2 separate regions of the Homo sapiens genome follow, and region 2 is linked to region 1. The links come from fine-mapping of genetic effects on gene expression. Tissue or cell type: unexposed skin. Region 1 holds a variant in brackets; the other region holds the start of a gene. All regions are shown on one strand. Distances are between the middles of the regions.

Region 1 (5,370 bases):
CTGTCGCTCAGGCTGGAGAGCAGTGGCGAGATCTCGGCTCACTGCAATCACCACCTCCCGGGTTCAAGCAATTCTCCTGCCGCCGCCTTCTGAATAGCTGGGATTACAGGCGCGTGCTGCCACGTTCAGCTAATTTTTGTATTTTTAGTAGAGACAGGGTTTCACCATGTTGGCCAGGCTGGTCTCAAACTCCTGACCCCAAGTCATCCGCCCCCCTCGGCCTCCCAAAGTGCTGGGATTACAGGCATTAGCCACCGTGCCCGACCAAGGTGCCATATTAATATGATCAGACAAACCTCTGCCTCCAGATCCTGGGGGTCTGGAGGGCATATGAAATGTACTAGGTTTACTAAAGGAGGTATCTGGGTTGGGGATGGACTGCAGGGCAGTTCTCTGGTTGGCCTTGGACTGACTCAGTTCTCCCCTCTTTCTCACTAGTAGTTCTCAAGCATAGAACGTGCTGGGAATGTAACATCCTGAGAGAGGGACGGACTGGCTGGAATAGCCCTGGCTCTATTCCAGCCCCTCCCTACAAACAGGATGTCTTTCAATGCTTTAACCCAGCAGTCACATGACCCCAGAGTACAAAACTCAGGGCAGCTGCAGTGCAAGTGGGGCACACACACATGAGATTCCATCACCCAGGCAGCATTCCTGAGCCTTGGGGGACTGGTTTCCAATGATTCTTAGGCTTCTGTCATTCTTTGCTGCCTATCTGTAAGTAATAAATCCAGTTCATGTAAATTGTTGTATTAAATATATGAATGTGTTTTCTCACTGGACTCAGACAAGTTGGTAACCAGCATACAGTGAACTTGCTTCATAGAGTCTAATACCTTTTTGTTCAGTTTATACATGTTTACTGAGCTGGGCATCACTATATGCTCTTCTTCCTTCTCCACCCTGCTATGTTCCCAGCTAGGTTGAGCTGTGTGGTTGGGTTTGGCCAAAGAGAGGCATTAGCAAGATACTGAAAAACAAGAGGAGAGTCAAGGGACTTATAGTCTCCTCCTTCCTGCCACAAACCATAGGTTCCTTCTAAAAAAGGTACAACTCCTATCAGACTGCCCCCTTCCCTTGAACCTTCAGATTCAGGGTTCTACACCGAATCTTGTTTCATTGTTTTTGTTTTTAAATCTTGCCCATGCCTTTGTAGATAGTACCTTTATAAAACTCTCCTCAATTACACAGGCTGAGAGTGCCACTTGCTTACTGCCAGAACTCTGTATGCATACAACCCAAAATGGACTCTGCCAGTGATTAGATTTGTGAGGTAAGAAACAAAACAAAACTTTCACTGGGTACTAACCTACAGGTGTGTCAGTGTAGTGTTTTTACACATTAGCCCATTTAATGGTCACAATAAGCCTTTTCAGATAAGAAAACTGAATTTAGAGGGTTATGTTTCTTGCTAAAGATCACCAGGTATTAATATTAAGGATCAGGGTCAGACCAGAACTCGGCTAGGTCTGCCTCCCTAAACATCTGCTTTGCTCCAGGTACCATTAGCCCTGGAAAAAAGGCTTGGTAAGGGACTGAGGGGTAAAGGACGGATTACGACCATGTTTCTCCAAGGGGTCACCTGAGTACAATCACCTGGGATGCTTTTTCAAAATCTAGATTCTTGGACTGTATCTCTCTCAATCCTTTAGCTCTCAGTGGTTTTTGTGCCTCTATTTCGACACTCACCACATTGGATTGCAGGAATAGTCATTAACTCTTTTTTTTTTTTTTTAGACGGAGTTTTGCCCTTGTTGCCTAGGCTGGAGTACAATGGTGCAATCTTGGCTCAATGCAACCTCTGCCTCCTGGGTTCAAGCAATTCTTCTGCCTCAGCCTCCCAAGTAGCCGGGATTACAGGCATGCGCCACCACACCTGGCTATTTTGTATTTTCAGTAGAGATGAGGTTTCACTCTGTTGGTCAGGCTGGTCTTGAACTCCTAACCTCAGGTGTGATCCACCCACCTCGGCCTCCCAAAGTTCTAGGATCACAGGCGTGATCCACCGCCCCCGGCCGGATTGGTCATTAACTCTTATTTCAGCAGATACTCTTTCATTTGGGACACTGGTGTATTTGCACAAATTCTAGGCGCCCCACGCAGCGGCCTGGAGCCTGTCCCCAAGTCCAACCAATGGGAGTAGTGTTAAGGGCTCCGCCCTCGACTACTTTCCAGCGCTCGGCAAAGCCGCCAGGCCCGCCCACTGACTCCGCGGAGCTGGGTCGCCCCTGTTCTACCCAGATTGGGATGGCAGCGACGCTGATCCTGGAGCCCGCGGGCCGCTGCTGCTGGGACGAGCCGCTGCGCATCGCAGTGCGCGGCCTGGCCCCGGAGCAGCCAGTCACGCTGCGCACGTCCCTGCGCGACGAAGAGGGCGCGCTCTTCCGGGCCCACGCGCGCTACCGTGCCGACGCCCGCGACGAGCTGGACCTGGAGCGCGCGCCCGCGCTGGGAGGCAGCTTCGCGGGGCTCCAGCCCATGGGGCTGCTGTGGGCGTTGGAGCCCGAGAAAGCCTTGGTGCGGCTGGTGAAGCGCGACGTGCGGACGCCCTTCGCCGTGGAGCTGGAAGTGCTGGACGGCCACGACACCGAGCCCGGGCGGCTGCTGTGCCTGGCGCAGAACAAGCGCGACTTTCTCCGGCCGGGGGTGCGGCGCGAGCCGGTGCGCGCGGGCCCGGTGCGCGCCGCGCTCTTCCTGCCG[C/T]CGGATGAGTAGTCTGCCCAGAATTTGGTCGAGCTCTGCGACCCCCACCGGCCCCTTTCCTGTCCTGGGAATCGCGTGATTGTGGAACATCCCTGAACTTGTTCCTTCGCTCCAGAGTCTGTCATGGATTCTGAGTCTGGGCGTCCGCTGTTGCCCAGGCTGGAGTGCCGTGGCTGGATCGTAGCTCACACTGCAGCCTCGAACTCCTGGGCTCAAGTCCTCTCGCCTCAGCCTCCTGAGTAGCTACTCCAGTCTTTCCTTTTTAAGTTTCACGTCCCTCCCTGGAGGCACCACCACTTTAGCTATGTGCTGAATAGTGCATTCAACTTATTATATATTTATTGAGAGCCACTATGTGCCAGCCATGTGGTTTTGTTTGAATACGATATGGGCAAAACCTTAAGCTGATGTGCAAGAAGGATTTTTGCCTCCTTTCACATCAAACTTCCAAAGAAGCTAAAATCCACAGTATTGGCAATGCCCTTTAATTGTTTAAAAACACACACAAAACTGCCTGACAGTCCTCTCCCTTCTATCATAAACATGCTGTACGTGGTTCTCAACCTGCAATGATTAGCCGCCCTCCCTGGGGGAAATTTGGCAATATCTGGAGACATTTGTGGTTGTCATATCTGAAGGGAGAGGTGCTATTGGCATCTAGCAGGCAGAGGCCAGAGATGCTGCTAAACATTCCACAATGCACAGGACAACCACCAGAACAAAGAATTATCTTGCTGAAAATGTCTGTACTACTGAGGTTGAGGAACCCTAGTCTAAGTAAACACAGGATGTTTGCTAGGTAAAGGTAGCCCAGAAAGAAGACTCCTGATTAATCCCTTCTAACTAAATTCCTGACTTAAACCTCTACCATATAAAAATGATGAGCCGGGCACAGTGGCTCAGGCCTGTAATCCCAGCACTTTGGGAGGCTGAGGTGGGCAGATCACTTGAGCCCAGGAGTTCAAGACCAGCCTGGGCAACATGGTGAAACTCTGTCTCTACAAAAAAAAAAAAAAAAAAAAAAAAATTAGGCAGGCATGGTGGTGCATGCCTGTAGTCCCAGCTGCTTGGGAGGCTGAGGTGGGAGGATTGTTTGATATCAGGAAGTAGAGGTTGCAGTGAGCTGAGATCACGCCACTGCATTCCAGCCTGGACAACAGAGTGAAACCCTGCCTCAAACAACAACAACAACAACAAATTCTAGAGTTGCAACAGCACATAGAATCCTTAAACCGAATTCTGTGATTATTCTCCAAAACAAGAAAACTTGCTTTATTTTTACAGCTCTTCAGCAATTCTTAGCCTTAACTCGTGGCTGCCCACTGTACTGTGAATTCCTGGGGCTGGAATTGGGTCTTACAGATTTCTAAATATCCATGTTCCTAGAGGCTTTCGCAAGGATATAGTAGGAGCTCAATAAATCATACTGACTGGGCCAGGCGCAGTGGCTCACACCTGTAATCCTAGCACTTTGGGAGGCTGAGGTGGGTGGATCACTTGAGGCCAGGAGTTCAAGACTAGCCTGGCCAACATGGCAAAACCCTACCTCTACTAATTATATAATACAAAAAAATTAGCCAGGCATAGTGGCTCACACATGTAGTCCCAGCTACTAGGGAGGCTGAGGTGGGAGAATCGCTTGAACCCGGGAGGCTGAGGTTGCAGTGAGCCAAGATTGCGCCACTACACTTCAGCCTGGGCGACAGAGCGAGACCCTGTCTCAAAAAAAAAAAAAAAAAAATCACACTGACTAAGAATCAACTAAAACCTTTCATTAAAAACAAACAAGGAGCCGGGCGCAGTGGCTCACGCCTGTAATCCCAGCACTTTGGGAGGCCGAGGCAGGTGGATCACCTGAGGTCAGGAGTTCGAGACCAGCCTGACCAACATGGTGAAACCCCGTCTCTACTAAAAATACAAAAGTTAGCCGGGCATGGTGGTGGGTGCCTGTAATCTCAGGAGGCTGAGGCAGGAGAATCTCTTGAACCCAGGGGGCAGAGGTTGCAGTGAGCCAAGATCGCACCGTTGCACTCCAGCCTGGAGGACAGAGCAAGACTCCATCTCAAAAAAAAAAACAAGGCGGCCAGGCGCGGTGGCTCACGCCTCTAATCCCGGCACTTTGGGAGGCCAAGGTGGGTGGATCACGAGGTCAGGAGTTCAAGACCAGCCTGGCCAAGATGGTGAAACCCTGTCTCTACTAAAAATACAAAAAATTAGCCGGGCATGGTGGCGGGCGCCTGTAATCCCAGCTACTCAGGAGGCTGAGGCAGGAGAATTGCTTGAACCCGGCAGGTGGAGGTTGCAGTGAGCCAAAATCACACCACATCACTCCAGCCTGGGCAACAGAGAGAGACTCTGTCTGATAAAAAAAAAAAAAAAAAAACAAAAAACAAAAAAAACCAGCAACAACGAAAAAAAAAACAAGACTGGGCGCAGTGGCTTACGCCTGTAATCCCAACACTTCGGGAGGCCAAGGTGGGCGGATCATCTGAGGTCAGGAGTTTGAGACCAGCCTCACCAACATGGTGAAACCCCATCTCTACTAAAAATACAAAATTAGCCAGGTGTGGTGGCACATGCCTGTAATACCAACTACTCGGGAGGCTGAGGCAGGAGAATCGCTTGAACCCGGGGGGAGACGGAGGTTGCAGTGAGCCGAGATCGCACCAT
Region 2 (5,370 bases), 21 kb before region 1:
ATACTCCCTGTGCCCCCCAAAACTTGCATAGTTCCCTTATCTCCACTATCAACATCCCCCACCAGAATGGTACATTTGTTACAATTGATTAACCTTCACTGACATACCATTATCACCCCAAATCTCTAGTTTGCTTTAGGGTTCGTTTGTTCTACATCTACAGTTTTGGACAAATGTATAATGACATGTATCCACCATTACAGTATCATACAGAACAGCTTCACTGCCCTAAAAATTGTTCCAACTATTCATCCCTCCCTCCCCACAATCCCTGGCAACTACTGATCTTTTTACTATCTCCAATACTTTTGCTTTCTCTCTTCCTTCCCTTTTTTCTTTTCTTTTTCCCTTTCCTTTTTTTGAAAGTTTCGCTCTGTCACCGATGCTGTAGTGCAGTGGTATGATCTCAGCTTACTGCAACCTCTGCCTGCCAGGTTCAAGCAATTCTCCTGCCTCAGCCTCCCAGGTAGCTGAGACTACAGGTGCACATCACCATGCCCCACTAATTTTTGTATTGTTAGTGGAGGCGGGTTTCACCATGTTGGACAGGCTCGTCTAGATCTCCCAACCTCAAGCGATCCGCCCAACTCGGCCTCCCACAGCACTGAGATTACAAGTGTGTGCCCCTGTGCCTAGCCTACCTTATATTTCATCAAAAAGCTTTTTTTAAGTAAACTGACATGTATGGCCAGGCACGGCAGGTAGCTCCCACCTATAATCCTGGTGTTTCCAGACTGGTCTTGGTCTCACTGACTTCAACAACGAAGCCACAGACCCTCGCGGAGATGTTACAGTTCTTAAAGGCAGCGTGTCTGGAGATTGTACCTTCTGATGTTCCCATGTGCTCAGAGTTTGTTCCTTCTGGTGGGTTCGTGGTCTTGCTGGCTCAGAAGTGAAGCTGCAAACCTTTGCGGTGAGTGTTACAGCTCTTAAGGCGGCATGTCTGGAGTTGTTCGTTCCTCCTGGTGAGTTCGTGGTCTGGTAGGCTTCAGAAGTGAAGCTGCGGACCTTCGCAATGAGTGTTACAGCTCACAACAGCAGTGCGGGCCCAAAAACTGAGCTACCTTTATTACAAAACTAAATAGAACAAACCTTCCCGCAACGTAGAAAAGAACCCCAACAAGTTGCCACTGCTAGCTCTGGCAGCCTGCTTTTATTCCCTTATCTGGCCCCACCCACATCCTGCTGATTGGCCCATTTTACAGAGAGCCGATTGGTCCGTTTTGACAGGGTGCTGATTGGTTCGTTTACAATCCCTGAGCTAGACACAAAAGTTCTCCACCTCCCCACTAGATTAGCTAGATACAGAGTGCCGATTGGTGTATTCACAAACCCTGAGCTAGACACAGGGTGCTGATTGGTGTGTTTACAATCCCTTAGCTAGACATAAAGATTCTCCAAGTCCCCACCAGACTCAGGAGTCCAGCTGGCTTCACCCAGTGGATGCCGCACGGGGTTCGCAGGTGGAGCTGCCTGCCAGTCCCGCGCCGTGCGCCCGCACTTCTCAGCCCTTGGGCGGTCGATGGGACTGGGCGTTAGTGGAGCAGGGAGCGGAGCTCGTTGAGGAGGCTCGGACCGCGCAGAAGCTCACGGCGGGGGCGGGGGCTCAGGCATGGCGGGCTGCAGGTCCCGAGCCCTGCGCCGCGGGGAGGCAGCTAAGGCCCGCTGAGAAATCGAGCACAGCAGCTGCTGCCCCAGGTGCTAAGCCCCTCACTGCCCGGGGCTTGCGGGCCGGCCGGCCGCTCCAAGTGCGGGGCCGCCGAGCCCACGCCCACCCGGGACTCGCGCTGGCCCGCAAGCCCCGCGGGCAGCCCCGGTTCCCGCCCGCGCCTCTCCCTCCACACCTCCCAGTAAGCTGAGGGAGCCGACTCCGGCCTTGGCCAGCCCAGAAAGGGGCTCCCACAGTGCAGCGGCGGGCTGAAGGGCTCCTCAAGCGCGGCCAGAGTGGGCGCCAAGGCCGAGGAGGCGCCGACAGCGAGCGAGGGCAGCCAGCATGCTGTCACGTATCACTAGCACTTTGGGACTACAGAGGCAGGAGGATAGTTTGTGCTCAGGAGTTCGAGACCAGCCTGGGAAACAGGGTGACACCTCCTCTCTAAAAATAAACATTTAAAAATTAACGTGGCATGGTGGTGCGCTGTCTGTAGTCACAGCTACTCCGAAGGCTGAGACAGGAGGATCACTTGAGCCTGGGAGGTGGAGGCTGCAGTGACCTGTGATCGAGCCACCGCCTTGCAGCCTGGATGACAGAGAGAGACCCTGTCTCAAATACAACAAAAAAGCAGGCCGGGCGCAGCGGCTCACGCCTGTAATCCCTAGCACTTTGGGAGGCCAAGGCGGGAAGATCACTTGAAGTCAGGAGTTCAAGACCAGCCTGGCCAACATGGTGTAACTCCCTCTTTACTAAAAATACAAAAATTAGCGGCATGGTGGCGCGCGCCTGTAATCCCAGGTACTCGGGAGGCTGAGGCAGGAGAATCGCTTGAACCCAGGAGGCGGAGATTGCAGTGAGCCGAAGCGCCACTGCACTCCAGCCTGGGCGACAGAGGAGACTCTGTTTCAAAAAAAAAAAAAGTTAAAAACAAAACCTTCCATGGAGCCCATGAAAGGCTGGAATTTGGCTTGATCTCATTGGCTTTTGGTTTCACCACAAATTGATCATCCAACAACTTTCATTCCAACAACCGAGGGTGGTGTGAGGCAGAGAGGCTTTCTACGGGGTGGGTTGGGCGCCACACCTTGCGCGCCCCGGGGCCCAAGGAGACGACCCTGAAGAGGAGCCTGGCTACTTTTGCCTCAGACGAGTCCGGAGCGCCGGGTTAACCGGTCTGAAGTCCCAGGGGCTTTCTGGGACTGCTCAGCCACCGGCAGCTTCCGGCACCAGGGGACGCCGGACGCCGTCCGGACATTCGGCGCGCTTGCCACGATCTTGGACGGGTCTCGGGCCTCGACCTTTGAATTCCCCGCTCCGGCTCCAAGATGTCAGCAACGCTGATCCTGGAGCCCCCAGGCCGCTGCTGCTGGAACGAGCCGGTGCGCATTGCCGTGCGCGGCCTGGCCCCGGAGCAGCGGGTTACGCTGCGCGCGTCCCTGCGCGACGAGAAGGGCGCGCTCTTCCGGGCCCACGCGCGCTACTGCGCCGACGCCCGCGGCGAGCTGGACCTGGAGCGCGCACCCGCGCTGGGCGGCAGCTTCGCGGGACTCGAGCCCATGGGGCTGCTCTGGGCCCTGGAACCCGAGAAGCCTTTTTGGCGCTTCCTGAAGCGGGACGTACAGATTCCTTTTGTCGTGGAGTTGGAGGTGCTGGACGGCCACGACCCCGAGCCTGGACGGCTGCTGTGCCAGGCGCAGCACGAGCGCCACTTCCTCCCGCCAGGGGTGCGGCGCCAGTCGGTGCGAGCGGGCCGGGTGCGCGCCACGCTCTTCCTGCCGCCAGGTGAGCCAGGCTGCTGGCGGGTGGTGTGAGCGTCAGTGGCCTGAGTCTCCGTTTGTTTCCAGTGCTGATTTAGCACTGGTTTGGTTTTGGAGCAAGATCAGAGAAGCTAACATTGACTATGTCAGTGGCCACTCTACCAAAATAGAGGGTTTGGTACCGGGCGTGGTGACTAACGCCTGTAATCCCAGCACTTTGGGAGGCCGAGATGGGCGGATCACTTGAGATCAGGAGTTTGAGACCAGACTGGCCAGCATGGTGAAACGCTGACTCTACCGAAAATACAAAAATTAGTCCAGCCTGGTGGCACACGCCTGTAGTCCCAGCCACTCGGGAGGCTGAGGCACGAGAATCGCTTGAACCTGGGAGATGGAGGTTGCAGTGAGCCGAGATCGCACCACTGCACTCCAGCCTGGGTGACAGAGCGAGACTCCGTCTCAAAAAAAGAAAAAAGAAAAAAAAGGATTTTTTGTTAGGCTGTGTACTACGGTTTTTACTTGCATTCTATCAGTTAGTCTCTATAATATCCCAATGAAGTTGGTATTGTTATTCTGCAGATGAAAAAACAGGTTCAGGTCGTCAGGTACATTATCCACTTTGCTATTAATCACTACCCTACAGATTTCTACAGGCATCAGCCTGACTTGTCTAAGGCAGAATGATGACAGTGAATGAAGCTATTACCATGTCGTCTTCTCTAGTGTTCTAGGCACACTGTCTCTTCTCCACTTCTTCATGTGCTGCTTTATCACAGGTCACACTTCAGACTCCACTGCCTTTCTCACCTAAAACCATCTCTGGGTATTTCTTTTTCTTTCCTCCCTTTCTACATAGACATCTGAAATATCAGTACACTAAAAACCAGAGGGCTGATGCAACAGAACATAAAGTTTTGTTTCAATCTTTTTTCTTTTCTTTCTTTCTTTTTTTTTTTTTTTTTTTTGAGACAGTGTCTGTCTCTGTTGCCCACGCTGGAGTGCAGTGGTGTGGTCACACCTCACTGCAGCCTTGACCTCTGGGGCTCAAGTGATCCTCCCTCCATTGCCTCCCAAGTAGCTAGGACTACAGGCATACACCACCACACTGACTAATTAAAAAAAAAAAAAGATTGTAGAGATGGGGTCTCACTACATTGTCCAGGCTGGTCTTGAACTCCTGGCCTCAAGCAATCCTCCTGCCTTGGCCTCCTAAAGTGCTGAGATTACAAGCATGAACCACAGTGTCCAGCCAGGAAAGCAAATTCTTTAAATTGTATAATGGCTTACATTTATAATATTTTGTTCTCTAGGACCTGGACCCTTCCCAGGGATCATTGACATCTTTGGTATTGGAGGGGGCCTCTTGGAATATCGAGCCAGCCTCCTTGCTGGCCATGGCTTTGCCACGTTGGCTCTAGCTTATTATAACTTTGAAGATCTCCCCAATAACATGGACAACATATCCCTGGAGTACTTCGAAGAAGCCGTATGCTACATGCTTCAACATCCCCAGGTTCTCCTCATGTCCTTTATTTAATCAGTCTCTCTAGAAATATTTCCATAGAGAGTGTAACCTTTACCACGTGCAGAAATGCTGCTCTGTTCCTCTTTCACAAAGATGTCTTCTGGAGACTTCCTTGGCTTAAGGTGCTATTTCCACTTTTTCTGTCAGATGAATTTGTGATATAGAATTAATTGTAAAATCCACATGAGATTTTATTTAGTAATATTAAATATTATCTGTATATTGCAAATTGAATTTCTAATCTACTGTCTTTGCATGCTTGTTTTTAAATTTTAATTTCCTGGTGTCAGAGTATGTTCTCAGATTTTGGTCAGAACTTGTCCACCCCTTTCAGAAGCCAAGAACAAACTTACTTACTCTGAAGTCTTGCTTTGTAATCATTTGCCAATACATATGGCAAATGATCTGATGAATGATTCACATCTTGAAACAAC

Direction of the effects. Positions count from the first base shown, and alleles are read on the strand shown. Sizes are in standard deviations (SD) of each study's normalised expression.
In carriers of allele C in region 1, the expression in unexposed skin of the gene that starts at base 2,893 in region 2 tends to be higher than with T alone (moderate effect, 0.66 SD a copy in GTEx).

Evidence for each region. PIP is the estimated chance that this variant, and not a neighbour inherited with it, causes the effect. A credible set is the group of variants that fine-mapping cannot tell apart.
Region 2: it holds the start of ACOT4, and the variant in region 1 is the best candidate, but not a certain one, in a credible set for the expression of ACOT4 in unexposed skin (GTEx, PIP 0.50).

The regions. Positions count from the first base shown.
Region 1 is chr14:73,610,325-73,615,694 of GRCh38, forward strand. It overlaps ACOT6 (acyl-CoA thioesterase 6), which reads left to right and starts at 2,193. Exons shown (of 3, transcript NM_001365788.1): 1 at 2,193-2,708. The coding sequence starts at 2,248. It also overlaps a transcript of HEATR4 not described here. RefSeq lists enhancers at 2,304-2,353, 2,371-2,870, 2,404-2,453 and a silencer at 3,529-3,773. The variant C/T (reference allele first, on the strand shown) is at 2,701.
Region 2 is chr14:73,588,981-73,594,350 of GRCh38, forward strand. It overlaps ACOT4 (acyl-CoA thioesterase 4), which reads left to right and starts at 2,893. Exons shown (of 3, transcript NM_152331.4): 1 at 2,893-3,436; 2 at 4,722-4,924. The coding sequence starts at 2,980. It also overlaps a transcript of HEATR4 not described here. RefSeq lists an enhancer at 3,127-3,626 and a silencer at 3,438-3,507.